Regions from separate parts of the Homo sapiens genome. Here all the other regions are linked to region 3. The links come from fine-mapping of genetic effects on gene expression. A gene starts in region 3. Each other region holds a variant in brackets. All regions are shown on one strand. Distances are between the middles of the regions. Region 1 has its middle 43 kb from the start of LINC03015. Region 2 overlaps LOC105375113 (a long non-coding RNA gene). Region 3 holds the start of FAM20C (FAM20C golgi associated secretory pathway kinase). Region 4 has its middle 14 kb from the start of FAM157D. Region 5 overlaps LOC105375114 (a long non-coding RNA gene). Region 6 overlaps LOC105375113 (a long non-coding RNA gene). Region 7 has its middle 25 kb from the start of FAM157D.

What was found.
Region 1: its variant is fine-mapped to the expression of FAM20C in whole blood (TOPMed, PIP above 0.99).
Region 2: its variant is fine-mapped to the expression of FAM20C in whole blood (TOPMed, PIP above 0.99).
Region 4: its variant is fine-mapped to the expression of FAM20C in whole blood (INTERVAL, PIP above 0.99).
Region 5: its variant is fine-mapped to the expression of FAM20C in whole blood (TOPMed, PIP above 0.99).
Region 6: its variant is fine-mapped to the expression of FAM20C in whole blood (TOPMed, PIP above 0.99).
Region 7: its variant is fine-mapped to the expression of FAM20C in whole blood (INTERVAL, PIP above 0.99).

What each region holds. Positions count from the first base shown.
Region 1 is chr7:104,561-108,904 of GRCh38, reverse strand. No RefSeq gene overlaps it. Among named protein-coding and RNA genes, the nearest start is that of LINC03015, 43 kb to the left of the region's middle. RefSeq lists an enhancer at 1-231. The variant A/T (reference allele first, on the strand shown) is at 2,778.
Region 2 is chr7:80,655-84,998 of GRCh38, reverse strand. All of the region lies in intron 1 of LOC105375113 (a long non-coding RNA gene), which reads left to right. LOC101929756 (a long non-coding RNA gene) reads right to left here. Exons shown (of 3, transcript NR_187733.1): 2 at 3,705-4,344; 3 at 1,650-2,084. Among named protein-coding and RNA genes, the nearest start is that of FAM157D, 47 kb to the right of the region's middle. RefSeq lists enhancers at 1-632, 1,926-2,696, 2,697-3,469. The variant C/T (reference allele first, on the strand shown) is at 2,128.
Region 3 is chr7:190,395-194,738 of GRCh38, reverse strand. It overlaps FAM20C (FAM20C golgi associated secretory pathway kinase), which reads right to left and starts at 2,168. Exons shown (of 10, transcript NM_020223.4): 1 at 935-2,168. The coding sequence starts at 1,539.
Region 4 is chr7:47,397-51,740 of GRCh38, reverse strand. No RefSeq gene overlaps it. Among named protein-coding and RNA genes, the nearest start is that of FAM157D, 14 kb to the right of the region's middle. The variant TA/A (reference allele first, on the strand shown) is at 1,888.
Region 5 is chr7:113,312-117,655 of GRCh38, reverse strand. It overlaps LOC105375114 (a long non-coding RNA gene), which reads left to right. Exons shown (of 3, transcript XR_926959.3): 3 at 1,759-4,344. Among named protein-coding and RNA genes, the nearest start is that of LINC03015, 34 kb to the left of the region's middle. The variant G/A (reference allele first, on the strand shown) is at 2,255.
Region 6 is chr7:85,836-90,179 of GRCh38, reverse strand. The region is part of intron 1 of LOC105375113 (a long non-coding RNA gene); the gene reads left to right. Among named protein-coding and RNA genes, the nearest start is that of FAM157D, 53 kb to the right of the region's middle. RefSeq lists enhancers at 1-637, 2,918-3,641. The variant G/A (reference allele first, on the strand shown) is at 1,843.
Region 7 is chr7:58,016-62,359 of GRCh38, reverse strand. No RefSeq gene overlaps it. Among named protein-coding and RNA genes, the nearest start is that of FAM157D, 25 kb to the right of the region's middle. The variant T/C (reference allele first, on the strand shown) is at 2,299.

The DNA of each region.
Region 1 (4,344 bases), 86 kb after region 3:
CGGTGGTTTATTACAGGGACAGATCACACTGTGCCAGGGAAGGCCAGGAAAATATATTCCCATTTTACTTCCTCTAATAATCTCCTATTTTCATCAGTGGGTGAGTGAACATGGCTTCTTCTTCCCAATGATGGTGCAAATGTATAATTTCTCCCAATGAAATCTGATTTTAATGAGAGACTAAATCAGAGGAAAGAGTATTATTTAGATAGTATATGCACATGTCAGGTTAATTTAAAATCAGCTTTTAGGTCAATCTATCTTAATTATTCTATTAACCGTTTTTGACTAGCAATTCCAATAATTGTGTTTGCGTAATACTTGGCAGTGTAATTGCTTTTTGGATTCTCTTCATTGTTTTGTCAGAGTCTGTTCCTGGGCCTCTGTCCCTGGTGAGCTGTGCTTGGGTTGAGTGTGTGCTTGGGTTGTGTATGCACATTCGTGCAACTGCACATGTGCTTGGGTTGAGTGTGTGTGTACAAGTGTGTGTGTGTGCACATGCTTGGGTTGAGTGTGCAGATGGACGTGCATGTGCATGCATACCTGGGTTGTGTGTGTGTGCACATGTATGTATCTGCTTATGTGCTCTAGTTGAGCATGCATGGGTGTCTATGTGCACATGTGCTTGGATGGAGTGCATGTGTACATGCACATATGTGCAGAAGTGCTTGCATAGTGTGTGTGCATGGGTATCATGTGCATGTGTGCTTGGGTTGAGTGTGTGTGCACATGTGTACATGGGTGCATGTGCTCAGGTTGAGTATGTGCATGTGCACACGTGTTTGGGTTGACTGCATGGGCATGGGCATGCAATGCATATGTGTTTGCATCATGTGTGTGCACAGAAGTGCATGTGCTTGCATTGTGTGTGCATGGGTATGCATGTGTGCACGTGCTTGTGTTGAGCATGTGTGCATGTGCTCAGGTTGGGTGTGTCATGGGTGTAAGGTGCACACGTGTTTGGGTTGACTGTGGGCACAGATGCACACATGCATGCATGCTTGGGTTGAGTGTGTGTGCACAGGTGTGCATGTGCACATGTGCTTGGGTTGAGTGTGTGCCTGGGTGTCATGTGCACGTGTGCTTGAGTGTGTGCATGGGTGTCATATGCACATGTGCTGGGGGAGGTGCTTCCCTGATTATTAATGAATGTATTTTCATGGGGTTTATTGATATCAAGGACCCCTGTCTTTATTTTTTATTTTTAAAATAAACTTCATTTTAGAACATTGTTAGATATAAAGAAAAATTGTGATGATAGCACAGAGTTCCTGTATACTCCACACCCAGGTTCCCCTACTCTTACCCTGTCACATTATACTGTACCTTTGTCACAGTGAATTAGCCCATGTCGATACAGTAGTAGGAACTAAAGTCCATACTTTATTCACATTCCCTCAGTTTTCCCTTAATATCCATTTTCTACCTCAGAATCCAAAGTATGATGTTACAGTTGGCCCTCATGTCTCCTTAGGGCCCTCGCAGCTGTGACAGATTCTCAGACTTTCCTTATTTTTAGTGATCCTGACAGTTTTGAGGAGGACTGGTTGGGTATTTTGTGGAATGTCCCTCATTTGGGACTTGTCTGATCTTTTTCCTGTGATTAGTTTGGGGTCACGGGTTGTGGGGAGGATGGAAAGTGACCTTCCCACAGCATCACACCAACGTCCTTGCTGTCTGCGTGACTTGTCACCGGTGATGTCAACCTCGGCGATGTGGCTGAGGCAGAGGTTTCCAGTTTTCTCCACTGTAAAGTTGCTCTTTTTCCCTTTTCATACTGTATTATTTGGAAGGAAGACACTCTGCAACGCTTATACCTTTAATTGTTTATTGATGCATAACATTTTACATATTTATGGGGTGCATGAGATATTTGGATACGCGCATGCCATGTGTAATGATGGAATTGGGGTATTTAGGACGTTCATCACCTCGAACGTCTATCCTTTCTTCATGTTGGGAACATTTCAAATCTTTTCTTCTCGCTATTTCAAAATATACAGTATGTTGTTGTTAACTATAATCCCCTCACTGTGTTATCAACACTAGAACTCACCCCTCCTACCAAACCGTTTATTCGTACCCATTAACCACCTTCTCTTCATTCCCTCCACCCGCCCCCCACTATTTTTTAAACAGCTTTACTGGGTTATAATTCACATACCATGCAATTCACCCATTTAAAGTGTACAATGGTTTTCAGTATATTCACAGAGTTCTACAGCCATTACTACAGTCAATTTTAGAAAATTTTCACCACCTCAAAAAGAAACTCCACACCCTTTAGCTACTCTCAGCCACCAGCCCTGCCCCCACCCCCAGCCCTAAAGAACCACAAATCCTCTTTCTGTATCTATGGGTTCTGCACGTTTCTCAAAATGTAAACATATAGTGCGTGGTCTTTTGCGACTGGCTTCTTTCACTTCGCATAATGTTTTCAGGCTCATCCACCTTGTAGCCTGTGTCAGCACTTCATTTCTTTTTTCTTTTTCTTTTTTTTTATAAGTACTTCATTCTTTTTCATGGCCAAATAACATCCTGTTGTACGGATACACCACATCTTCTGTAGCCATTCGCCAGTCACGTGTATCGGGGCTGTTTCCATTGTTTGGCTTTATGAGTGGTGCTGCTACAAACGTTTGTGTTCAAGTTTTTATTTGGATGTACTTTTTTGTTGTTTGTTTGTTTGTTTTGAGACAGTCTCGCTCTGTCGCCCAGGCTGGAATGCAGTGGTGCGATTTCGGCTCACTGCAACCCCTGCCTCCTGGGTTCAAGCG[A/T]TTCTTCTGCCTCAGCCTCCCGAGTAGCTGGGACTGCAGGCATGTGCCATCACGCCCAGATAATTTAGTATTTTTAGTAGAGATGGGGTTTCTTCATGTTGGTCAGGCTGGTCTCGAACTCCTGACCTCGTGATCTGCCTGCCTCGGCCTCCAAAAGTGCTGGGATTACAGGCATGAGCCCCTTAGCCTGGCTGGATGTATGGTTTTAATTATCTGGGACGCACACCTAGGGGGGGATTGCTGGGCCATGTGGTCACTCTATGTTGAACTCATTTTCAGCGCCTTTTCATTGTTTTTGTCTGCACTATTTTCTTTCCCAAAGAAGGTTCCTGTTTCTTAAGTCCTTGTCAAGACTATTTTCTGTCTTTTTGAGGATCACCCTCCTAGTGTATGAGGTAGCATCGCCCTGTGGTCTTGATTTGCTTCTTCCTAATAACTAATGATGTTGAGCATCTTTTCTTGCACTTACTGGCCATTCGTACATCTTCTTTTGAGAAGTGCCTATTCAAATCCTTTGCCCATTTTAAAATGGGGTTAATAACCCTTATTTTATTTGAGTTTTAAGTGTTCCTTACATATTCTGGATATGAGTCCCTTATCAGATACAGCAGGTCCCATTTACCTGGTGTCCTGGTTTCCACAGTTTCAGTTACCTGTGGTCAGCCATGGCTTGAAAATACGACATGGAACTGTGCATTGTTCTGAGTAGCACAGTGAGACCTTGCTCCAGCCCAAGCTATCCCTCCCAGCTGTGAACCATCCCTTTGTCCACTGTATCCACACTGTATAGACTGCTCCTTCCTTAGTCGTTACACTGTCTGCTCCTGACATCCAGCCATTGCTCATCATGGCTTGGTGATCCTCCTTCCGATCATTCATCGGAAGGTCAACAGCATCCTAAGACAATGTCACAATGCCTGCGTGATTCACCTCACCTCACCTCACCTCCTCCCGGAGGCAATTCCGTCATCTCACATGATGACAACAAAGAGGGGTGAGAACAGTACAATAAGGTATTTAGAGGGGTGAGTACAGTACATTAAGGTATTGAGAGAGAGAGCGATAGAGAGGTCACATTCACATAAGTCTTATTACGGCATATTTTTATCATTGTTCAATTTTATTATAGTTATCCTTGATAATCTCTTCCTGTGCCTAATTTATAAATTAAACTTTATCACAGGTATACATATATGGGAAAAAACAGTATATACAGTGTTTGGTAATCTCTGTGGTCTCAGCCATCTACTGGGGGCCTTGAGATGTATTGCCTGCAGATAAGAGGGGATTACTCTAGAAGATTTCCTAATATTTTCTCCTTTTATGTGGGTTATCTTTGCACTTTCTTAATGGCATTGGTTGTAGCACAGAAGTTTTTAATTTTAGTGAAGTGTCATTTATCTCTCTTTTCTTTTATCACTTGTGCTTTTGGTGCCATATTGAAGAAATCATTGCCAAACTCAGGCCATAAGGATTTCCTCCTATGTTTTCTTCTAAGAGTGGTTTTGTATGAATCCATTAATATGCTGTATTACATTGATTGGCTTTTGGATATCAAATCAACCTT
Region 2 (4,344 bases), 110 kb after region 3:
GAAGGCCCCCATGGGTGAGGGGCCACAGCGCACGCAGCCCCCAGCTCCTGGCTCTCACCCATTAGAAAGGACACCTGCCGCCCTGGGCATGAGCAGGACTGTGGGAGATTTGGGGTGGGGGCTTCACCGACGAACTGTGGGATTCTCCTCATCTGAGGCTGCTCCTGAGCCCACACGGATTTAGCATTTCACGTGCTGCTCACTAAACTGAGTGAACGAGTGGCAAATCAGCCACTGTGCGAGCCGCCTCTGTGGGAACCCAGGGCCGGGCTCTGCTCTGCAGACCTCTCCCCTGCCCAGGCCTTGGCTCCAGTGGGCACTTGTCCTGCCAGTGGCCATGGCCCTGGCAGGCTCCTCTGTTTTCCTGTCCATGAGCCCCTGCAAGAGGCCTTCTCTGTTCCAGTCCCTCGGCATCCCGCTCTCCTGGCTTCTCTGGGTGAGGAGTGAGGAAGGGTCACAGAGGGTCCTGCCTGCCCGTCAGTACCTCAGGGCCTGCTTGGAGGTGTGTGGGGCCCTTGTCCTCGTCCTTGGGTCTGTGACTCCAGATCTGAGGCCTGTTGGCCGGCCCTGCACCAGAGCTGCCTGCCTCGCTCCTGTGAGGAGGGACCCAGCGGCCCCCAGACAGGGGCAGAGGACAAGGTCGTCCTAATGCTGGGAGACGAAAGCCCCTTGGCGCTGTCCTGCGCCCGCAAGCCCTGCCACCCCAGTTTCCCTCTCGCTCTGCAGACGATGCCCTTGGCCTCATGCCCCAGTGCGTGTGGTGGAAGAGACGCACAGCGCAGCCTTGGGAGCCTGCCGGAGGCCCCCTGAAGGCTCAGCCTGCTGCTCTGACCCCCACACCAGCTGGAGTCCAAGTTTCCAGGAAGACTTCATCTCCCTTGCCCCTCGTCTGGTTCTCGGAGAGCTGGATGGGGCTTTCGCTCAGCAGCACGGGCACAGCTCCACTTCCAAAATGTGAGGGGCAGGGGCCCAGGTGTTGGATGCCTTCAGAGCCCTGGAGCCCCGGGAGGGGCTCTCAAGCCCACCTGCCTGAGTCGGGCATCAGGCAGGGAGAGTGCTGGGGCCTCCGCCCCTGCTGGCCCAGTGATGAAAACCAAGCATGAAGGGTGGGTGTTCATTGGTTACTTGCTGTGTGTGGCCTCTAAACATGCACCATTCCCTTTAATTTTCACAGGCTTCATGGGATGGTATTAGTGTTGCCACCGGACAGGCTGGCCCTGTGGAAGGAACATGGGCGTGGGCAGTTCCTGGCCTCTGGTCTTGACTCCTGACTCGGTTCCACCCCCTTGGGATGCTTGGCCCAATTCGTGGCTCAGAGCCCGGCTCTATCTATTTAATGGGAGCTGCACTTGAGGAGGGCCAGGGAATCATCTGGGCCAGCAGAGGCAGAGGCCCCCGCACGCTCCCTGCCCGATGCCCGACTCAGGCAGGTGGTGAAGGCATCCGAGACCTGAGCCCCTGCCCCTCACACTTTGAAAGTGGAGCTGCGCCCCTGTTGCTGAGCAGAAGCCCCACGCATGCAGGGGTGGGTTGGGAGGGGCCCCTGCCAGAGCCTCTCTCTACGCCGGCCTGGCTGTGGCATGTTCTCTCCAGATTTCCTCCAGGAGACGGCCCTGGTCCCTTGCCACAATAGAAATTATGCCCCATAATTTTCTGTTGTAAAACTTGATCTTTTTCTGCAAGCAAGTCATTAAAACTTCAGCTCTTGCACGCTCCATGTCCCATGAATGCCCAGGCCTTAGCACAGCTTCCGCAGTGCCAGAAGTTCCGTCAATCATGTTGAGTGATTGTAAATCACTCAATCAGTGGATGTAAATATGTGTACAAGAAGAAAGGAAGGAGTGGGGACACGGCCCCTTCCCCACAAGCCTCTCTCAAAAACCCGAACCTAACAGAATACAGGGGTGGAAACATGAACCTTTTCTCCATCTTCTGACCCTTAAGGACAGAGAGAAGCAGCAGGTTGTGATGTCAGTAGGAACTTGCAGACCAGGACAGCTGAGCGCTCACCGACGGCTCGCAGGACACCCTCAGTCACCGCCGCGCCCATCAGAAGAAACAGCAGGAACCAGACATTGCTCTGCCTGCAGAAATCACATCTGAAAATCAACTCTGCTTTGCTCCAAG[C/T]GACGGAGCTTTTTCATAAGTATAAAAAACAGCTAACTGGATAAAAACACCTTTCCTGGGGACCTGAGTGCTGCAATTCAAAGGGGCTGGCAGTGTGAGGCTGGAGAAGGGCTCCTGCAAGGCTCTTAGCTGGGCAGGCCGAGGGAGGCCCCTCTCGGTGAGCACGAAATCAGGGATGCCCCGGGCCGGTTAGGGATGGGGCCTGGACACCGTGAGATTTCCAGCAGGCTACACCTGGGGCTGCAGCCGGGGCAGCCCCCACAGAATACTCAGAGGCAGCGGGAAGTGCGGGCTGGTGACGAGAGTGGGAACACTGCCCCACACGCAGCCGCCTCGGTGCCACCTGGCGGACAAGCCGCCCCTGTCCCCCGCTTGGCCTCTCCACATGGCACATTTGCCCCTGGCAGTGCCCAGCCCCAGGTCCGGGTGACTGGGGACAAAGAATACCGATGGAAAAACAAGCTAACGAGCTCCTCCTAGGGAAGAGGCCCGCGCCAGGGAGGAGGCGGCCGTCTGGGCGGAGCTTCCCGATAGCCAGGCCCGGGCGGTGCCAGGACACTCACCTCAGGTCTCACCTGCAGAGCATCCACGAGTCACTCACGCTGGGCCAGGCACAGGCTGTGCACACAGAGGGCAGATCCAGACCACACGAGAGCATAGGTGCCCACGGGTGTGCAGGGATTGTGGGGGGAAAGGAGTGTGTGCTTGTGTGCCTGTAGGCGTGGGTGAGTGTAGGTGTGCCTGTGGGAGGGCGAGACCATGAGTGTGAGGGTGCGCGTGTGCCTGTGGGAGGGTGTGTGGGTGTGGGTGTGCGTGGGAGGGTGTGATTCTCTGTGGCTATGCCTGATTGTGTGTACATGTGGGTGCACATGCTGCACGTCTGTGCTGCAGGAACCCATAGGGCCAACCTTAGGTCCTAATTCTGGGCTGACCGTGTGCCGTCCCCCACGGGCCCCTGCATCCTCAGTTCCTCATCTGTGCTGTGGGCAGAAGCTGGGCTGCCCCACACTCCAACATCCCTAGAAGGGAAGGGATGGGGGCAGGGCTGGCTGCAGGGACAGCCTCGCCCACAGCAGACACGGAGGCCGCAGGGTCATGCCCTGGATGGATGTCACCCAGGAAAGGTTTTGCCTCCTCCAGTCTTTTAAATCAGGCTCCAGGGGCTACGATTACAGCCCTGGGCTTTCTCCCACCCCTCAGCCTCCCTCCTTAGTAGCTCCACAGCAGCTCCCTCCCGAGAGCACACCACCCCTGCACGCTCGGAGCTGCATCCTCCAGCCCCTCATTCCCCGCTCATCTACTCCGACCCAGCTAGGGATCCGGCTTCCCTCTTAGGGCCATTTCTCCTTTGCCAGCATTTTCTCTTTTTCCCTTCTGTCATGCTCTGCTACGTCCTCATGCAAAATTAAGCCCAAAACGGTTTCAGTTACTCCCAACCCTGAGACGAGTTTTAAAATAGTGACAGGATGAACATTGCACCTCCCATGTGAGGGCTGTAAGGGACTGGCAGTTCCAAATGCATCTTCCACTCGCAAAGTTGCTAACACAAATCCCATGGGGAAAAGGGAACTGCTGACCTTTCAGCGTGCAGATCTTCCCTTTGATGGGTTTGCTTGCCTTCAGAAGAGCCCAGGAAAGCTCTGCACAGAGGCCTGTGTGTTTCCGCCCCTCCTGTAGGAAATGAACGGGTGCGTCTTCTCCGTTGCCTTTATTGATCAAGGCCAAAATCACAAGTATAAATTACCACGGTGGGAAACGAGCTGCTCTGATGAGAGGCAGGTGGAGGAGGCTGCCTCGTCAATAATGCATCTGATCAGAAAGAAGGGGCTGATCAGAGGGAGGCCGGGCTCTTTGAAGGTTCTGGTTTTCCCATGGAAAGCTCCACCAGCTCTCTGCCTGCCGAGTTCCTGCTCTTGCCCAGACGGGAAGTGCGAGTAGCTTTCATATCAGACCTGCCGCTCACCGCACCGAACTGATTCCATGGACACTGACATTTGTCTCTGCAGCAGGGATGGCCGCCCTGGCCCAGGCTCCTGTCGCTGTGGATGCCTCTGTCTGGCACAGACTTTCGGTGTTAGAGCCCCAGGTGAAGGTCTGAAGCAAGAAGGAAAAGGACACAGAATCCCATCCCTTCTGAACCTGCGGGGTGCAGCTGCCCTGAGATCCTGTAGCATTTCACTGGGAGCCGACAGGGATGGTTTGCGCGCTGCCGGGATG
Region 3 (4,344 bases):
GCGGCCGTCTCTCCCTGCCGAGAGCCACAGCCCAGGCCAATGCTCTGGTTCTCAAATTTCCAAGCATTTCCTTGAACCTGACCAGCAGGCAAGGCTCAGAGGCTTCCAAACAGCCAGTGTGTTTAGACAGAAGACACTGGGCCTGGACATTTCAGGGAAGAAGGGACTTTCAACCAGATCTTTTGGAAGGCTGGTCTCCCCCTCTGCTGCTGGGGTAACCTTCGGCAGGTAGTTACTTATTCTGGCCTTGTCGTGGTTAATGTTCCACTGCTTCGGTGTAGCATCTGCTTGTTTTGATCTGTGTGGCGGAGGGAGGGGCCGGGGGGTGGGGAAAGGGCTTAGCCAGGACAGTTTAAAGAGAGGTTCCTGCCGTGGCTTCTCGCCCTTTATCGAGCCATCATCTCTTTGCAGCCAGCACACCCACCGCCCTTGCTGGCTGGGCCGCCTTGTTGCACCTCACGGCTGCCAGCAAGCCCCTCTGATAATTCTGCTCCAGCCACTGGGTTTAAAAGACTCAATAGGCACATCCAGACCTTCTCCAAGGTGCCCACCCAGAGCACCCTCGCCAAGTGTCTGAAAGCCCAGCGGCAGCCTGGCTCCTTCCCTCACCAACTCATTCATTCATTGCCTGACCCCATTTCCCAAGCTGGTGACCACGGCTGGTCAGGACTCGCTTCTAAAGGGCGCGGGGTCTGGCTTCCTCACCAGCAGCCACAGGGCACAGCTCCCGGACCAGCCGGCAGCCCCTCCCAAGGAGGAGGTTATTCTGGAGACAAAGGCAGCGCCCTGAGGTAGGCGGCTGCCTCCTCCCGCACCACACTCCCTGCCCGGCCTCTTCCATGGGGGGCGGCCCTCTGGGGCCCCTGAACCTCTCTACACCATGCCTTGGGCTCACGGCTCCCTTGGGGGTGGGCACCTGCCAGCCCCCACTCACCAGTCCGGGTTCTCCGCCGCTTTGGGGCTGAGCCTGGTGTCGCTGTTCACATTGAACAGGACGTCCTCCTCCGTGAGCGGCGGAACCGCCACCCGGTAAAGCGGGTGCTCGAACAGCCTGGCCAGGAGGGAGGCGTCTCCGCCGGGGCCGGGGGGCGACTCGGACCGACGCGGGCCGGGGTCTCGCAGCAGCGGCCGGTGCGCGGGGTCGTGGGGTCTTAGGGCGCCGGGATCCCGCCCCCGCAAGGCGCGCTCGGCCGGCTCGGCCGCGGGCGGCAGTTTCTCCAGCGAGTGGGACGAGAGGTTGGAGGAGGGGTCGGAGCTGAAGTCCTGCAGGATGCGGAGCGTGTGCTTGTTGGGCCAGCCCGCGTCGCCGGCGGCGGAGGAGGCGGCCGGGGGCTCCCCGGGGCGGCCCCGAACCTGGGCCCAGCCGGGCGCGGCCACCTCGGCGGCGGGCTGCGCGCACGAACAGCCGGGCTCCCCCGAGGGCCGCGCGCCGCGTCGCTCCAGCCTGGGCAGCAGGTCCAGGGCGATGTGCAGCGCGCAGGCCACCAGGAACACCATCAGGATGAGCACGCGGAACCGGCGCACCAGCATCATCTTCATGGCCGCGCGGGCCGGCCCGGGCCTGGAGCGCGTTCTGCCCGCGCGCCCCTCTAGCTGCAGCTGGGCACGAGCGCGGCGCCGCCTCGCGGGTCAAGGTCCATCGGTGCCGGGCGGCTACCAGCTCCGGGGCTGTCCCCGGGCCCGGGCCGCGTGCAGGGCGCCCGCCGCCGGAGCGCTGGGTCCCCGCGCCATCTCGGGCCCGTCCCCGCTCGGCCTCTCCGGAGCGGCCGCGCCCTCAGCCGGGGAGCCCAGGGGTCCTGGTCCGCGGAGCCGGGCGCGCGGGGGGCGGCTGGGGCCGCAGCAGGGGGAGGCTCGGCGCTCGCAGCCGCCGGCGCGGGGCTCATCGGGCGTGTGGGTCCATCCCGGCCGGGGCGCGACGGGCCTGGGCGGTGGCGGCGGCCGCAGGCGTCCCGATCCTCAGCGCGCTCCTCTCCAGGCGCCGGGCGGGCGGGCGGGGAAGGGGCGGCTCCTCCGGGCCGGGCTCTGCTCTCACGCCGCGCCCGGGAGACCGGGGCTGGGGGGAAGGGGGGGGCGAAGGGCGGAAGGGGTGGGCGCGGGGAGCGGCCGGCGGGGTCCCGGGCAGGTGCAGCGGCCGCCCCGAGCGCAGCTCCCGCCTGGCCGAGCCTCTCGGCGCCCCGCGTCCCGGGCGGGCAGATATCGAGCGCCGCGGAGCCGCCCCCCGCGTCAGCGCCCACAGATTGGCGGAGCCGCCGCCCCACGAGTCACGGCTGGGCCCGGGCCGGCTGCGCTCCCGCTCTCCTTCCTCCTCCCCTCGGCCGCGCCCCGCGACGCCTCTGAGCTCCGGGCCCGCTAAGGAGAGGGCTCCTCCTGCCCGCGGTTTGCAGAGGGAAGCGGCGGAGACCGGGAGGGCGCGCTCGGTTCTGGCCAGGCCAGCAGCTGCGGCCGAGTGGGGGGCTCCGGCCTGGCCGCTTCCTGGGACCCCCTCCCGCCCGGGGCCGCCGCCGCCAGCTGCAGCCTCTCGGCTCCTCCCCAGAGGAGCGCGGGGCCGGGGCCCAGGCCAAGTCCCTCCCCGGAGCCGCGGGGCGTCTGCGCCGCCGGATGAGCTCCCCGCCGGGCGGCGACCCCGTGCCCCACGCCCGTCTCGGCAAGGAGGAGGCGGAGGCGGCCCCGCGAGAGAGGCCCAAGGAGCGACTGGGCCTGGACCCAGGGGACGCCAGGGCAGCGGAGCTCCCGGCACCGGTCCCGTCCCCCCCCCCCCGCCCACCCGCGGGACGCGCCCGCCTTAACCCTCCAGGCGCCGGGCCCGCTGGGGGCGCTGAGAGGGGCTGGTGTGCCGGGGGCGCCTTCCTGCTTGGGGCCGACGGGGGTGTGTGAGTGCAGGCGTGTGCGTGTGTGTGCGCATGTGTGTGTGTGGATGTGCGTGTGCGTGTGTATGCCTGTGTGTGTTTGTGTGTGCGTCTGTGTGCATGTGTGTGTGCACATGCATGTGTGTTCACGTGAGTGCATCTCATCTGTCACCCACAACCAGGGGAGCGGTGCTTGTACAACCAGCTGGTGGCTTCTGCAACCAGCAGCTTCTGGCCGTGCAGCTCCCTGTAGGGAATATGAGTTAATCTGGATGTCAGCCTAAGATGTAGTCAGGGAGGTAAGTGTGTGGGAGGAGGCCACATCCCCTGTGCCTCAAGCCGGCTGCTTCCACAGTGCCCAGACTGCCTGGGCCAGCAGCCTCGCCAGCAAGCCCAGGCGGGTGGGCCGGGAGCAGGGCCTGGGCCCCCCCTCTTACTTTCACCGGCTGGCTGTGTTACCAGGGCCCTCTCCGCCCTCTCTGAGCCTCAGTTTCCTCTGATGTGAATTAAGGGCGTTGAGCCCATTGTTCCTGAGGAATCACTCATCTCTGAGCCTGGCCCATTGCCTGGCATTCCGTGGGCACCCACTAGATACTTATAAGGGGAGAAGTTGTTCCAGTCCGGCTGGCCAGTGGAATCCATGCGTCTTGGGCCATTTGAAGTGAGTGAAGGGCTGGGTGCGGCCCACCTGGAGCTGGACTGGAGGCTGTGTTGGGTGGGGCGGTGTGACCTGGAGGTGGGCTGCCCCCTCAGGAGACAGCTTCACCCCTGTGAGTGGACCTCATCCTTCCTTCCTTCCACTCACATGGACAGCACATCTGTGTGTAGACAGGGTCACTGAGAGAGGCCAAGGAGGGTGAGGAGGAAGATCCCGGGTGTGGGGGGAGTCCTGGGGGAGCAGACAGCAGGGACAGAAGCCTGTGGCAGGAAGGAAGGTCTTGGCCTGTGTTCTCCCAGCAAGGGTCCCCTTGGACTTGGAGTTCTATAGGCTCCTGGCCCCCCCATCTCTCCCGTGGTCTACAGGACCTCGACGCAGAGCTGTGGCTAGTGTCTTGGGGCAGACATGGGGCTGAGCAGACCCCATGGAACACTATTATCCGGTGTGGGGGGCCTCATGGAGGTTCCCTGGGCACTTACTTTCACTTGCCTCCTGCCCCCAACTCCTCTCCCCTCCCATCCTCACCCCCAGAGTGGTTTTTGGGAGCCCGGCAGCTATCTGGACCCGTGTGCACCCCTGGACGCCTCCCTCCCTCGCAGAGGGTCCTGGTTCATCTCGTCTGTTGCCTCTTAGAACAGTGGCCTCTACCTCGCCAGGTCCTTCAGAAGCGCCCCCCTCCCTGCCCCGCCACTGTTTTCCCAACAGCACCCGCCGTGGTCTGAGGACACTTTCTTCTGCTCCTGTTTATTGTTTATCTCCCCCAAGCACAAGCAGTCGAGTTAAGACAGGAGCCTCGTTCAAAGTTCCGCCCGGGGCCAGGCACAGCGCAGGCTCTCAGAG
Region 4 (4,344 bases), 140 kb after region 3:
GGCTCTCGGGCCTTTGGCCCCAGACTGAAGGCTGCACTGTCGGCTTCCCTACTTTTGAGGTTTTGGGACTCAGACTGGCTTCCTTGTTCCTCGGCTTGCAGCCTACTGTGGGACTTCACCCTGTGATCGTGTGAGTCAATACTACTTAATAAACTCCCTTTCATATACACTTCTATCCTATTAGTCCTGTCCCTCTAGAGACTAATACTCTTAAGATTTTAAATTGTTCTCCATTTTCATCTTTAACATGGTAAATGTTAATAGATAAACCATACTTATTAGGGTTCTCAATTACTTCTTATTATTTTTTTAATTGACACAATATGGCACATATTCGTGGGGTTCACAGGGATGCTGCAGTACATAGAATGAATCAAGGATTAGATCAGGGTGGCGAACACATCCATCGTCTCAAACACGATAATTTCTCCTCCTAGCTATCTGAAACTATGAATTATAGTTAACTATAGTCACCCTACAGTGCCAAAGAACCATAGGACTTATTTTTCCCATCCAGCTGTAATTCCATATCCTTTAAAAAATCTCTCCCTATCCGTCCCCTCTCCCTCCCCTTCCCAGCCTCTAATATCCTCTGTTCTACTTTTTACTTCTATGAGAGCAACATTTTTTAAAGTTTCCACATGTCAGTGAGAACATTCAGTATTTAACTTTCTGTTCCTGGCTTATTTCACTTACCATAATGTCCTCCAGTTCCATCCGTTTTGCCATGAATGACAGGACTTCATTTTTTTTTACAGATGACTAGTATTCCACTGTGTGTATATACCACGTTTTTTATCCAGTCATCTGCTGTTGGACACCTAGGTTGATTCCACGTCTTGACTATTGTCAATAAACATGGGGTTGCAGATATTGGTTTGATATACCGATTCCTTTCCTTTGGATAAATGTCCAGGAGTGGGATTGCTGGATCTTATGGTAGTTCTGATGTGGGGCAGGTGAGCCCCAAGGTGGAGTTTAGTCTGCAAGGGTTCTTGCCTTTGCCCAGGAAAGAATTCAAGGGCAAGCCAAAGGAAGAAGAAAACAGCTTTATTTATTTAGAGACGGAATCTTGCTCTGTCACCCAGGCTGGAGTGCAGTGGAGCGATCTCGGCTCATTATAACCTCCGCCTCCTGGGTTGAAGAGATTCTCCTGCCTCAGCCTCCCAAGTAGCTGGGATTACAGGCACGCACCACGACGCCCACCTAATTTTTGTATTTTTAGTAGAGACGGGGTTTCAACATTTTGGCCAGGCTGGTTTTGAATTTCCCACCTCGTGATCCGCCCACCTCAGCCTCCCAAAGTGCTGGGATGACAGGCGTGAGCCACTGTGCCCGGCCAAAAACAGCTTTATTAATAAAGAAGAAATGTTACAGCTCTGAGACGGTTCCTGCAGAGCAGGGCTACCCTCTCTGCCCTGTAAGAAGAGAAGAGCAGCTCGGGGCAGTTTTGCAGTCATGTTTAATCCACTTTTAATTTCACGCGGATTAAAGACGGTTTATGCAGAAATTTCTAAGGAAGGCATAGTAACTTTTGGGTCATTGAGTCATTGCCATGGAAAGGAGCGGTAACTCCCGGTGTCGTCATGGCAACGATAAACTTCCATGGCACTGGTGGGTGTGTCTGATTGAAAGCTGCTTCCGCCCCAGCCCTGTTTTAGCTAGTCCTCAATCTGGTCCGGTGTTCGAGCCCCACCTCTGGAGTTGAGTCCCACCTCCTACCTCAGTTCTGTTTGTAGTTCTGTGAGGAACCTCCACACTGCTTTCCACAGTAGCTGTACTGGTTTACATTCCCACCAACAGTGTCAAGAGTTCCCTTGGTTATTTTTTGTCTTTTTGATGAACGCCATCACAACTGGGGTGAGATGATATTTCTTTTTTTTTTTT[TA/A]ATTTTTTTTTTAATTATTATACTTTAAGTTTTAGGGTACATGTGCACATTGTGCAGGTTTGTTACATACGTATACATGTGCCATGCTGGTGTGCTGCACCCATTAACTCGTCATTTAGCATTAGGTATGTCTCCCAGTGCTATCCTTCCCCCCTCCCCCCACCCCACAACAGTCCCCAGGGTGTGATGTTCCCCTTCCTGTTTCTATGTGTTTTCATTGTTCAATTCCCACCTATGAGTGAGAACATGAGGTGTTTGGTTTTTTGTTCTTGCGATAGTTTACTGAGAATGATGATTTCCAATTTCATCCATGTCCCTACAAAGGACATGAACTCATCATTTTTTATGGCTGCATAGTATTCCATGGTGTATATGTGCCACATTTTCTTAATCCAGTCTATCATTGTTGGACATTTGGGTTGGTTCCAAGTCTTTGCTATTGTGAATAGTGCTGCAGTAAACATACGTGTGCATGTGTCTTTATAGCAGCATGATTTATAGTCCTTTGGGTATATACCCAGTAATGGGATGGCTGGGTCAAATGGTATTTCTAGTTCTAGATCCCTGAGGAATCGCCACACTGACTTCCACAATGGTTGAACTAGTTTACAGTCCCACCAACAGTGTAAAAGTGTTCCTATTTCTCCACATCCTCTCCAGCACCTGTTGTTTCCTGACTTTTTAATGATCGCCATTCTAACTGGTGTGAGATGGTATCTCATTGTGGTTTTGATTTGCATTTCTCTGATGGCCAGTGATGGTGAGCATTTTTTCATGTGTTTTTTGGCTGCATAAATGTCTTCTTTTGAGAAGTGTCTGTTCATATCCTTTGCCCACTTTTTGATGCGGTTGTTTGTTTTTTTCTTGTAAATTTGTTTGAGTTCATTGTAGATTCTGGATATTAGCCCTTTGACAGATGAGTAGGTTGCAAAAATTTTCTCCCATGTTGTAGGTTGCCTGTTCACTCTGATGGTAGTTTCTTTTGCTGTGCAGAAGCTCTTTAGTTTAATTAGATCCCATTGGTCAATTTTGGCTTTTGTTGCCATTGCTTTTGGGGTTTTAGACATGAAGTCCTTGCCCATGCCTATGTCCTGAACGGTAATGCCTAGGTTTTCTTCTAGGGTTTTTATGGTTTTAGGTCTAACGTTTAAGTCTTTAATCCATCTTGAATTGATTTTTGTATAAGGTGTAAGGAAGGGATCCAGTTTCAGCTTTCTACATATGGCTAGCCAGTTTTCCCAGCACCATTTGTTAAACAGGGAATCCTTTCCCCATTGCTTGTTTTTCTCAGGTTTGTCAAAGATCAGATAGTTGTAGATATGCAGCGTTATTTCTGAGGGCTCTGTTCTGTTCCATTGATCTATATCTCTGTTTTGGTACCAGTACCATGCTGTTTTGGTTACTGTAGCCTTGTAGTATAGTTTGAAGTCAGGTAGTGTGATGCCTCCAGCTTTGTTCTTTTGGCTTAGGATTGACGTGGCGATGCAGGCTCTTTTTTGGTTCCATATGAACTTTAAAGTAGTTTTTTCCAATTGTGTGAAGAAAGTCATTGGTAGCTTGATGGGGATGGCATTGAATCTATAAATTACCTTGGGCAGTATGGCCATTTTCATGATATTGATTCTTCCTACCCATGAGCATGGAATGTTCTTCCATTTGTTTGTATCCTCTTTTATTTCCTTGAGCAGTGGTTTGTAGTTCTCCTTGAAGAGGTCCTTCACATCCCTTGTAAGTTGGATTCCTAGGTATTTTATTCTCTTTGAAGCAATTGTGAATGGGAGTTCACTCATGATTTGGCTCTCTGTTTGTCTGTTGTTGGTGTATAGGAATGCTTGTGATTTTTGCACATTGATTTTGTATCCTGAGACTTTGCTGAAGTTGCTTATCAGCTTAAGGAGATTTTGAGCTGAGACAATGGGGTTTTCTAGATATACAATCATGTCATCTGCAAACAGGGACAATTTGACTTCCTCTTTTCCTAATTGAATACCCTTTATTTCCTTCTCCTGCCTAATTGCCCTGGCCAGAACTTCCAACACTATGTTGAATAGGAGTGGTGAGAGAGGGCATCCCTGTCTTGTGCCAGTTTTCAAAGGGAATGCTTCCAGTTTTTGCCCATTCAGTATGATATTGGCTGTGGGTTTGTCATAGATAGCTCTTATTATTTTGAAATACGTCCCATCAATACCTAATTTATTGAGAGTTTTTAGCATGAAGGGTTGTTGAATTTTGTCAAAGGCCTTTTCTGCATCTATTGAGATAATCATGTGGTTTTTGTCTTTGGCTCTGTTTATATGCTGGATTACATTTATTGATTTGCGTATATTGAACCAGCCTTGCATCCCAGGGATGAAGCCCACTTGATCATGGTGGATAAGCTTTTTGATGTGCTGCTGGATTCGTTTTGCCAGTATTTTATTGAGGATTTTTGCATCAATGTTCATCAAGGATATTGG
Region 5 (4,344 bases), 77 kb after region 3:
TCCCGGGGGGCTGTGTCGGGGGGATCGGCGGCTGCCGGGGGGCTGTGGGATGGTGCCCCCGTCCCAGGGCTCCCGCACGGGAGGGCTTTGCACGTCCACCCCTCCTTTCCTTGACCAAACCCGGTTCTTATCCAGTCTTGTCTCTTCCTTTCTTTCTTTCTAAGCCCCCATGACCCAAGTCGGGGCTCTAGGGTGAGGGCTGCGTGTTCTGCTCCATGCAGCTGTCTGGACACTGCTGGACGAGGGCCTGTCTCCTGCGGGCTCCCACCCATTGTGGCGCAGGTTTACCCAGCCCTGCTTCACCAAAACATGACTTTATAAAGAAGAGTTATTTCTCAAACTGGGAGAAATCACTGCATTTGGTCAAACAATTATATATATATATATATATATATTTTTTTTTTTTTAACACAGAGTCTTGCTCTGTGGCCCAGGCTGGAGTACAATGGCGTGATCTCAGCTCACTGCAACCTCCGCCTCCTGGATTCAAGTGATTCTCCTGCCTCAGCCTCCTGAGTAGCTGGGATTATAGGCGCGCGCCACCACGCCTGGCTAATTTTTGTAATTTTAGTAGAGACAGTGTTTCACCATGTTGGTCAGGCTGGTCTCGAACTCCTGACCTCATGATCCACCCATCTCGGCCTCCGGAAGTGCTGGGATTACAGGGGTGAGCCAGCACGCCCGGCGGATTTATATTTGTAAAATCAGCTCTGCTCTGCTAAACAAATAATTAAAGAAAAGGTGAACACAAGACAGTGTAGACTGTTTAGGTGGCACCAAGAGAACCAGGGCCAGGGGTTGAGCCAGGATGAACACCAGGGGTCAAGGCCACAGCCAGGAGGGCCAAGGTGGGTGCCAGCTGTTGTGGGTGAGGCCAAGCCGGAGTGGGATCAGGGGTGACACTAATCCCTGGAGGAGAGACAAAGAGGGGGATGGGGGCTCAGGGAGTTGGGCCTTGAGGGACTTGCTATCTGATGAAAGGACGGACACGACCCACCAGATGAGGTGGACGGGCCTGGTAAGTGCCTGTCAAGGGTGGTGTGGAACAGAGAGGGGGCTCCTGTCTCACAGTGGGCAGCAGCCCAGCGTCTTTGAGACGGCGTGGAGATGGGCCTAGATCCTAGATGCTGAGAGGAGGCGTCCACACGGCTGAGGGAGGCCAGGCAGAGGCCATAGTGTGGGTGAAGGCCAGAGAATGGGCGAGCTCAGGGAACTGGGGGCCTCGGGGCAGAGCCCGGAGCAGAATGATGGGTGTGGGTGCAGGTGGGGCACAGGCTGGAGGTGTTGGGAAGAAGCCTGCGAGCCTGGTGCTGAGTGCCTGGCTAGCACCGAGTTCACCCGAGGAGCTCCTGAGTGTGGAGGGGAGATGGGGCTGGACCGGGACACTGGTGAGTCCATTCCTGGATGGGCAGAACTCAGCCACAGAGACCAGCCAGCAGGTTATGGGAAAGAGCCCCTGTGGAGGGCAAGGAGGGCGAGGGAGGGAAAAGGGTCTGCTTCGCTTTTTCCCGAGGACGTTGAAGGAAGGGAGAGGGCTTATGGAGAAGAGCAGGCCTCCATGTCCAGAGCAGGAATCCGAAAGTGGAATGTGTTTGCCAGATATTCTCTCTCCTCTGTCTCTCCCACTTCTCTCTGCCTGTATCTCTGTCTCCTCTTTGTCTCTCCCTCTCCCTCTCTGTCTCCTCTTTGTCTCTCCCTCTCCCTCTCTGTCTCCTCTTTGTCTCTCCCTCTCCCTCTCTGTCTCTGTTCTCGCTGCAGGAGCCCGTCCATATCCCTCATCCAGCAAACTCCATGGCCATGCAGGGCTCCTCAGGACACTGCAGTTGTGCCCTGTTTAAAACAATAACTGTTTCTCAAGTTTCTTGGAGTGAAGCCACCATGACCTTTGCAACAGACGAAGCCTACACTTTTTCCAAGTGTGACTCAAAGGACAAAAGGTTCATGCACAAGGCAGTTCTAAAAGTGGATGGGTAATTGCTGGTTCTGCTTCCTGTAAGGATTTTGTAAGATCACACCAAACCCACTCCCTTACAGAAAACAGCTTCAAAATCTGTACACAATGCAAACAGGCTGCTTGTGGGCGTTGGAGAGTGAACAGCAAGACGGACCTGGGGTGTACACGGGGGATAAAGGAGTTGCAGGAAGCACGTTCTCTTTGACCGTGGCTGTTAGCCTGAGCACTATGTAGTTAGGGCATGAGGAGCTGGGGGTCCTCAGGGAAGACCACAGTCTTCATGGCCTGGAACAGGAGCAG[G/A]ACGAAATTGGGGAAGCTGTGGCCAGTGGAGGGGGGGAGCGTCCAGAAGGGGAAACTTGGCGGACTCTACTCATGTTTCCGACTGGCCCTGAACTGCACACACTCAAAGCAGATAAAAGAAGCCCAGCTAAAGGCTGGTACAAAATGACCTTCTTTATAATGCTGGTTGTGTTCATTGTTCAATATTAATATAGCTGTTCCCGCTTTTTTTTTTTTTGACTAGTGTTAGTACAGTGTATCTTTTAAAATCCCATTAGTTTTCATGTATTTGTGAATTTATATTTAAAGTGGGTTTTGGGTAGGCAGCAATTAGTTGGGTCTTGCTTTGTTATTAAGTCTGACAAACTGCCACTGAATTAGACCAATGGTTATAGATCATTTTCATCTACCATCACTGTTGATAATGGTTGGACTTAAACCACCATCTTGCTATTTGCATTTTATTTATCCTGTCTACTTTTTGTTTCCTGTTCCTCTTAGCCAGCCTTCTTCTGGACTGGGTATTTTTTAATCATCCCATTTAATCACTTCTGTTGGCTTATTCCCCATAACTCTGTCTGTACATATGTATGTGTGCGTGTGTGTGTATACATTTTAGGGTTTATAGTGTGCACCTTCAACTTATCATAATCTATCTTCAAATAATATTACACTACATCATGATGGTTTAATAACCTTACAGCAGCACACTTCCATTCCCTGCCCTCCTTCATGTCCTTGTGGGCACATATTTTATTTCTCTACATGTTCTATACCCAGCAAAACATGCTTTTCCTTCCTGTGCTTCTATCGGGTCTCCTATAATGTCATTTTCCTCTTGTCCAAAGGACTTTCTTTAATATCTCTTAGTGCTTATCTGCTGGTATGATTAATATTTTAGCTTTTATATGTCTGAAAAACTTGATATCTCACCCTGTTTCTACCTTTGTTGCCAGGTACAGAATCACAAATCAACAGGCTTTTCCCGGCAGTACTTTGCAGAGCTTGTTCCACTGTCCTCTAGCTCGCCTCATTTTCAAGGAGAAACCTGTCGTCATCCTTGTCTTTGTTCCTCTGTACCCAGCACGTCTCTTTTCTTCTGCCTGCTGTTAAGATTGTCTCGTTCTTACCCAGTTTAAGCAGTTTGGTTAAGATGTGCCTTCTTCGTACTTCATACTTTTTGGACTGGGATATGTAGCTTTTAAAAAGCAAATTTCAAAAGATTTCAGTCATTATGTCCTCCTTTTTTTTCTGTTTTTTTTTCTTTGTTTTCTTTCTGGGACTCTAAATGTATGAATTTTAGGCCAATTGAAGTTGCCCCCCAATTAGCTTTCTGCTCCTTTTGAAGGGGTCTATTTTCTGTCTGTGTTTCACTTTGGATGGTTTCTATTATATACCTTTAAGTTCATTAATCTTTCCTTTTGTAGTGTCTGTCTAATCTCATCATCTCATCCAGTGAATTTTCTTTATCTCAGAAATGGTTTCATCTCTAAAAGTTAGAATTGGGACTTTTTAATGTTTTTCATATCTCTGCTTAACGTTATCATGTGGAATAGAGTGATAATAACTACAGTTCATCTGTGTCTAGGAATGCCCTCATCTGTGCCATTTGTGAATTAGTTTCAATTTGTTGATATTCCTCATTACATGATGTGTTTTCCTGCCTCTTTGCATACTTGGTGATTTTTTACTGTATGCTAGACATCATGTACTTTTCCTTGTTAGATCCTGGATAGTTTTGCACTCCTAAAATTATTTTAAAACTTTTCAGGGATGAAGTTACTTTACTTGGAAACAATTTGATATATTTGAGGCTTGATTTTAAGCTTTTTTGGGTGGGGCCTAAATTAGTCTAGGACTGATTATGCTCTACTACTGAGGTGATACCATGCTGAAAAAGCTTAATAAGGAGAAAGATCAATCAATAAATATTCACGTATATTCACAAAATATAATGAGGAGAAAAATCAATCAGTAAATATTCACGTAACCCTAAAAAAAGTTAAGAAATGAGAAACAAAGGGGGGAACTGGAGGGTATGTATAGAGAGCGAGGCATAAAATTACAGACCCAGACATAACCATGTCAATACTTATTTAAATATGAGTGGA
Region 6 (4,344 bases), 100 kb after region 3:
CTGGAAAATGTAGGTGGACAATTTATGACCTTGGCTGTAGGGAAGGATTTCTTAAATACATTGTAAGAAGCCCTGGCTATAAAATAGGAGTCTGATAAAATGTGAGTACATTTAAAAAACTATTGGTCAAAAATAACCTCAAAGAAAATGAAAGAGAAGCTAAAAATGAGAGGATACTCACCGGGGACATAACTAACGAAGGGTAGGCCTCAGGAATGTGTAAGGAATTTCTATAAATCAGTAAGAATGAGAAAAAGACCCCGAGACATGAAGGGGCATCTCCCTCAGGAGAAGCAGATGTGAAGCAGTGTTTGCAGACTTGGACATGTGGAGATCAAGACCCAGTGAAATGCCATCTGGCTCACTTGTTGGCCAGCACTGGCCGGGGGTGAGAGGCCTGCGTGGCCGCCCAGCCTCACAGGCCTTTCCCAGTGCTCTTGGGCCTTGGGCACAAAGGGTTTTGGAGGCCTCCTGTCCTGTGAGAAAAGGGCTGCCCAGGGCCAGTCAGCAGGCTGTGTGCAGGCCCAGAGAGACCCTGCCTGGGACCCTGCCTGCTTGTGGGCTCCTTCTCTGTCCTCAGCTACCCTTCCTGGGCAGTGGCCCAGCTGGAGACCAGCAGGTGGGTGAGTCACAGCTGTGGGTCTGAGCTGTGGGCGCCTGTGCTCCCCAACTGTGGGGGCAGAGAGGGCATGAGGAAGTGGTTCTGTGAGTCAGAGACCCCTGGGGGACGTGTTTTCCAGAACACTGACCTCCCCATGGCCCTGACAGAAGTGGGGCTGTGGCTTCTGTCCTGTGAGCCTTAGACACATGCAGACAGACACATAGAAACACATGGACATGCACACAGAAGCACATGTACATATGCATAGAGACACACACTGACATGGAGACACATATGTAGACACGCATATACACATGCAGACAGACACACAGGGACATAGACACACACAGACACACGGACACACACATATCTACACCCAGATGTACATGTGCAGACACGCTCACACCTACAGACACACGTGGACATAGACACACATGGCCTTGGGGAGGGCGTGAGACGAGTGCTACTGGCTGCTCACCCGCAGCTCCCTCCCTACCACACAGAGATGCTGTCAGATCAGGGCCACCTTGGGCCCTGCAGGCTCACAGAGCAGTGGAAAGGGAGGGGTCCCTGATGGGGTCTTCCTAGGAGAGGAGCCTGCTGGGTTGGGTTTGCTTCTGAACCCTAAAACCCAATATGGGGACCCTCCATGACTCCACGTAAGAATTAGGAGAAGCAGGTGAGACACAGGGCCCAAGAGAGTTTGCAAAACCTGGGAACGGTGAGAAGCTGGAGCTGAGGCCATGACCTGGGCTCGGCAGCAGGAGGGGGAGCGGCCTTCGGGGAGGGCAGGGCTGCAGCCGCGGAGGTGGGGGCCACACCCAGGCTGGGTTTTCTCTTTACGGCCATGGCGCCAGAGGGATTTGGGGATTGAGATTTGCCTGGTGCCTGATGGAGAGTGGATGGGAGAGGGTGCCTGGAGGCCATGAGGCCGGCCCGGACCCTGGCGTTTCCAATGCTGAGCTGGTCCGCCCTTGAGGCCAGGGAATGCTGTGGTAGGAGGTTGATGGCCCTGGAGATGTCCACATCAGAATCCTTGGGATCTGTGCAGATGTGGATAAATTAAGGGCTTGGGGATGGGGAGAGCATCCTGCAGTATTGAGTGAGGCCGGGGCAATGACATGTCCCGAGAGGGATCTGACGGCAGGGGGAGCCCACGTGACTAGGAAGGCAGCCGCTGGAGGGTCCAGGAACACTGGCTGAACGTGGGGGCCTCTAGGAGTGGAACAGGGGACGCTGCT[G/A]GAGCCTCCAGGAGGCCAGGCCTGGCTGATACCTTGGTTTTAGCCCAGTGAGGCCTGTTCCAGACCGCTCACCTCCAGAGCTGGGAGAGGGCGAAGGCATTGTTTTGAGCAAAGCCCGTTATAATGGCAGCAGGGGACTGATGGGAAGCTTCGTGACTTGGATGGGCAGTGACTTCTGGAGGGAGCTGTTGTCTACCCTCTGCCCCCGTTAGACACCTGCGGTACCCTCTCCCCCACCAGCGACAGGCGGGCTCAGATGCTGGGGTCTGTGTGCCCCAGGCACGGGCCACACATCCTGTTCTGGGTGTCAGTGCCGTCCATGGCCACCACTCCATCAGCACGAAAGCAACTAGGAGCTGAGTCTCCATCCGACTGGGGCCTGTGTTCCCTGACATCTTCCACACCCCAGGCAGACACGGCCCAGACAGCCACCTGCATCCTCTGTCACCTTCTCTCCCCACCATTGGTGGCCTGATGGCCCTGGGGCAGGTGGGTCACCTGGTGGGTGGCTGAGCACTCCCTCGAGGTCCCAAGGCCGATGCTGCACTGAGCCTGCAGCTCTTGCCATGGGCACTGGTGGGTCCCAAGTAACAGAGCAGAATCCCCAGGCAGCACATGGCTCTGGGCACTGGGGAAAAGGAAGGACCTGAGTGGTCACGCTGAGGAATCATCACTGTCCTCAGCAGAGCAGCGGAGGGACCTTTTGAAGTGCCCGCTGGCTGGAGCATCCCCAGTGGGGCCCCATCAGGATGCAGCCTAGAGGAAGCATCTCCCAGCACCCGTGTTGTGGGGGACCCTGTTCTTCCTCAGGTCCTGCTCAAAACTCTGCTCCAGGCACACCCCATTCAAACCCCCTGATAGAAATTTGTCTGGGCCTTGGCTGGAAATCTGCCAGCAATGGCAGAGGGGAGGGATCACAGCTTTAAGCTAAAAGGGACACCACGGGTGGAGCTCGGGGCCTCTGTGGGCCCAGATGCAGGGCCTGGGCAGTGGTCAGCCTTGCTCAGATATCCTGCACAGATCAAGTAGAAAGTTCTCAGCTGGACAAAAGACTCAGAAAGAAACATGTGGGGCAAACTCCTGGCCACCTGCCCATTGCTCCAACAGGCTGCATGGGGGCTGACCAGATGAACGGGCACCTGGCCTTCCCCTAATGAGCACAAGCTGCTCCCACAGGAAAACAAAAGTGTAATTCAGAGGGGGCCCTGGGGACCCACAAAGCCCTGCGGCCCGTGTGTGCTGATGGAGTTCATTTTCTGCATATTTGAGGGAGATAAAGCAATCATTGTGTGCGCCTCTTTACCCCCCAAGACCTCACTGATCCTTGGAGCTTTCTACCCGAAGAGTCTAATTACTGGGTCCAGGGTGACATAGGGGAGCCCCGTGGAACCAGGACCATCTGCTCAGGTCTCTCTGCTGCCCTGTGGCTCTGAGGGTCCTGCAGGAGGGAACCGCTGTGACCAGGACAGAGCGGGTCTTCCTGACACTGCGATACTGGCTTGAAGGAAGTGATGAAGAGCACACGTCCCTGGGTGGCCCTAAGCCAGGCTCAGCACTGGGGCCGATGGTCCTATCTAAGCCAAGCAGGCCCCAGAGCTTTCCCTGGTGCCCACAGCTCCATGGTCCAGGGTCTGAGATAGGAGGCTCAGATCTGGGTTGCTGATAAACTAGGCATCTAGTCCAGGGGCTGCTGGAGGCAGGAGGAGCCAAGACCTTCTCCTTGAGCTAAGATGAACTTAGGAGGCCAGGAACAAGGTCAGGAGGGCAGGGAGGAGCTCAGAAGGCCGAGGACAGGCTTGGGAGGCTGAGGACTCGCTCAGGAGGCTGAGGACCCGCTCAGGAGGCTGAAGAAGAGCTCAGGAGATTGAGGATGGGCTCAGGGCCTGGGGACAGGCTCTGGATGCTGGGGAGGAGCTCAGGAAGCCGGGGACAGGCTCAGGGGGCTGAGGAGGAGCTCAGGAGGCTGGGGAGGAGCTCAGGAGGATGAGGATGGGCTCAGGGGGCTGAGGACGAGCTCAGGAGGCTGAGAATGAGTTCAGGAGGCCAAGGCCGAGGTCAGGCGGTGGGGATGGGCTCAGGAAGCTGGTAACACTCTAATCCAAAAGCCCTTGGGCTGAGCAGAGCCCACCACTGGACCAGGGCCCGTGGCCGTGGGGGTCCCCAGGGAAGTTGCAGAGGGTGGTCTGAGCTCAAGGTAGTAGGAGTGGGGGTACCCCCCAGCTTCCCCCACACCCACCCCCATTTCCCTGCACACTGTGGCGTTGTCATGGAGGCGCTCTGCTCAGAGCCAAGCGGACCACACCCCACCATTCAGGCCCAGACACCCAGAGCCACCAGCACTTTCCACCGGGACAGGGCCTTCTGAGACAACTTTCCAGGACAGGCAAGGTGGGGACACCTCTGAGCCCCTTCCAGGAGCATATGATGAAGGAAAGGAAAGAGCAGAAATAATAATACTAGAAGTGGCCAGCAGCAACGGTGTGTCAGACACAGTGCCCAGCT
Region 7 (4,344 bases), 130 kb after region 3:
CAGCCTGGTGGGGAAGGGGACACGGACACCTACAAGTCAGACACGGGATCATAGGGCCTTCGAGGAGGAGGCCTGGGCTTCCACAAAGACAGCAGCGCCCCATCCTGTTCGTAATCTACCCCCAGGACGCCCCTCCAAGGCTGTGTGGAGGTAGACCTGGAGAGCTGGAAAGAGTCTCCACCCCTCTCCTCGTAGAAGTGGGAACACAGAAAGGAAGGAGCAAGGACGTGACCCCTCCACAGACCCCAGGCCCCGGGATGGCTGTTAGAGGGCCCTGGCTCAGGGGCCCCTCCTGTCCCTCAGGGAAGGGGGTGCTTTGGACTCCCCAAGCTGCAGGGAGTGGTCAGGCCCCATGAGGGTGGCAGAGGAACTGGTGTGGGGAGGAGGAGAGTGTGGGGGCTGTGCCTGGCCCTGGGGGTGCAAGCAGAACCCTCTGGGAGGGATCACAGGGAGACTTTTAGCCCTGAACGGGGAGTTGCCCAGAAGACCTTTGGGGGGCTTTAGTCTTGGCCTCGGCATCTCCTCTGGTCCCAGCCCTGACCCCAGAGATGGAAGGTGTCCAAGGTCAGCATGTGTCCGGCCTGTGGCCTCTGTTGGGCAGGCCATGCACAAAGAGGCCTCATTTATCCACAAAGACACCCTCTGTCGCCGAGACACAGACTCTTCCCTTCCAAGACCAGTGGAAAGGACTCGGGGACGGCTCCTTCGAGCCGGAAAACCCTGTCATTGCAAGGCTGCTCTCAGGCCCAGTGTGCTCAGAGAATTACACCTCAGCACCAAGCTCTTTTCACTAAGGGTCCCTTCCATAATTGGAACTTGAACAAATGGCAGTAAAGTATACAGGAGCTTGCCTACCTAGAACAGGGCTCTCAGAAGAAAGATAAGCTCCCTCAGGTTCAGAAATGGCAGCAAAGCACATTCCCCCATACTCCAAGGCCGGCACGTGGTGGGTTGGCAGTGGGGCCAGGCACGTGGGGGAGGCCCCTCTCTGTGAAGTGAGTCAAGGCAGAAAAGAGGAAATGCCTCTACCTATCCTGTCCGGGGCCAGGGGCCTGGGAGGTGAGGAGGGACATGAGAAGCAGACTGGTGCCGACCCACAGGCGTGAGCCTCCCCTACCCAAGGGAGCAGGAAAGCCCCATGGGGGTCTCCCGAGCCCACAGGGTCACGGGCACGTATTCACTGCTAACCAAGCTCCCTTTAGATGGTCAGTGTGGTGATATCTGGAGCTTGCCCTGGAGTTTGAAAGGGCAGGTGCTGGAGAGCGTGGCTATCGGGAGCCGTGGGCAGATTTGTGGAGGGAGGTGGCATGAAAAATGGCCCTCAAGATCTCTCCACCTGAGGAGGCCACCCTGTCTTCTGCCCATCCTCCACCTGTCTTGCTCCTGGTTCCGCTCATTTTCTTCTCTCTCAGCCGGCCCAGCTGACTCACCACCCGTAAGACCAGGCCCACCGTGGGCCCTGCCCTGGGACTTGGCCTCCATGTGCCCCACCTGGAGACAGAGCCACTGCCCATGGAATGAGGCTCGGGACTCAGTCCAGACATTGGCTGAGCAGGAACAATAGCACCTGGCATCAGTGACCGAGGAAGGTGTAAAGACCCCATCAGACAAGGCAGGGAAGAGGCTTCTGCCCCAGTGATGGTGTGAACCCAGGGCCTGGGCTTATGGAAAAGCTCCTCGAAAAATAATTTAGAGAAAAATAAAACCAGCAACCTCTTTATTAAGTACCTCTACCTGGGACACTGCCACCCCTCGTGGCCAGCAGGGATAGAAGGGTATCCACTGGTTCCCTCTCATCTCCAGAGGCTGCCTGTGCTGAGCCAACCGTGGTCCCTGAGCCAGAAGCTCTGTCCCTTGGGTGGCTTGACAGGGCACTCATGCTGAGCAAATAAATCCACAAGGAAACGCCGAGAGCCTTGTCCTCCCAGCGCGAGGCTTGCTTCCACTTGGTGCTTCACGGTCAGTACGAAAACCTGATGCACAGAGATGTTCCGATTATGTTTCTCTGCTCCCTGCTTCCTTGAGATCAGGCCACTTCGAATGAGGTAATGAGACCACAATTTTCTCCCCAGGAATTGTTCTCAACATCCTCTTTGCTGGTGTCTCCTCATTCATCCCAGCCCTGCTCAGATGCTCCCCCATGAGGTCCCGGGTGCCCGTCAGGGCCCGGCTCAGCCCCGGCATCCTTGTTGACTCAGGTCCCTCAGGATGGACCACTTTCTAGCCAGTAGGGCATGGGTCCCAGCTCTCCCCATGTGGAGTGTAGGGGGCTTGTGGTGGGTTCTACTCCCATGGCAG[T/C]GTTAGCCAAGGAGTCTGCGTTTCCACCGGGTCTGGGGGAGCTTGGAGTCATCAAAGGAAGCTTCTGTGAAAATCTTGGAGTTGCTGTTACTTTGTCTGGGGTTCCAAAAACAGCATTACCCCGAAGAAGGGACCTAGACTGAGTCTGAGCTCCATAAATTAGCTGCCCCTGTGTGGGTAAGAACAGATTTGTTGAACTCGATTTTTGCATTACATTTGCATAATACTCTCATTTAAATAATGACAGAAGGTATGGAGATGGGAGGTGGGAGGGACGTGGGCTCTGAGCCTGAGGGCTCCCAGTGGAAGGAGCTCAAGAACAGAGCTGCCCCTCCCACAGTACGACCTCCACTGCCCAGAGATCATACGGCAAATGGTGTTTTCTGGTGGGGTCAGCGGGGCGGGGGAAGAAGCGTGCCGCCTGGCCCAGTCTCTGTTGCCCATTGTCACCGCGTGGAGAGGTGGAGAAGTCCCAGGAAGGCAGAAGGCTTGGACCAGTGTGAGGTCTGAACGGCATCCCCAAAACCCCATATGCTTCCTCCAAGTTGTATTAATCCTATTTTTTTAATTTCTGTATTTTATGATGCTCTGACATCCTGGGGCCTCACTGACCAGAGAAGGAACTGCCTCTCCCAGGGGTAGCTAATTCCTGGGGACTCCCTGGTGAGTGTGCCTTTCATGTGCAAACCGCCCAATCCAAGCCCTTGGCTCCAGCCACCTCCTACATGGGCTCCTGCACTCCCAGGCCAGTATTTCCCTACCCTGAATCACCCAGGGCCAGGAACCAGACAACTAGAGCCCAGAGCCCTCCAAAATTGCTGAAACGCCAGCCCTAGGCCTGCTCAGCTGGTCACCACACCTCCCCAGCTCCTTCCCACGATAAGGGCTCTGGGCCTGCTCACCCCTCACTCCTGCTGCCTCCCGGCTGAGCTGGTGCTTTCCCACATGGCCTTGCCTGGTATGCCATGCCCCCTCCTCTTGGGAACCTTAAGTAATAAACTCTCCTTTCAAGACAGCTGTCTCCATGTTTGTCATCTTATCATACCTAATTAAAATAAACCATCGGTACATCGCAAAACACAAGCCTCTGTCACCCTGGCAGCCGGGAATGAACAGGAGATGCCTTCCAGGTGCCCAAGCACTGGGCTGATAACGCTGATGGGCACAGAACAAGCTGAAGGTGCCACCCCCAGGAAGACTGCAGGAACTCTGAGAGGAGTAGCTTGTTCAGGGCCCCCCTGCCAGGGATTGAAATAATTATCACTAACACCATCTTCCAAAATAGCATCTTGCATCTAGATCAGGGGTGTCCAATCTTGTGGCTTCCCTGAGCCACATTGGAAGAAGAAGTGTCTTTAGCCACACATAAAATACATTAACACTAATGATAGCTGATGATGAGCTAAAAAAATCGTGAAGAAATTCTCATAGTTTTAAGAAATGTGACGATTTTGTGTTGGGTCCCATTCGAAGCTGTGTCTGGCTTCACGCAGCCCGCAGACTGCAGGTTGGAGAAGCTTGGTCTAAGTAGTAGCCCATGTGGGGACAGCTGCTCTATTTGCAGAGTGACTGTTCCACGTCACACATAGTGGGCTGTTTGTACATAAGCTAGCCTGCCTGCACATACGCTGTGCCCTATGCAGAAAGGCTGGCCTATATGCAGATCAGCTCACTTCTGGTTCCCCCAAATGCAAAAATGTTCTAATAAACATGCTACTCAGATTGGCTGATCAGAGGCAACTCACAGATCTGACATCAATTAGTTGCTCTGGACCTGACCTCAGTGTCCATCCTGAGGACAGCTGCTGGCCCAGGACACATACATGCCGATTCTCTCACCGTAGACCCCACCAGCTAAGTGGGACACCACCACAGGGTGTGGTTCATTTTCATGCATGTTAGTGCTGTTCTCTGTCCATCCTTGCAAAGCAGGCAAAGCAGGTGGTCAAGAGGGAAGCAAATGTCAGAACTGTCCTAGTTGTCTGTGAAGTCCCCCAGGCCTCAGCCTGTGGCTCTGAACCCGTTTTCCTGCCATGATGCTGGGCA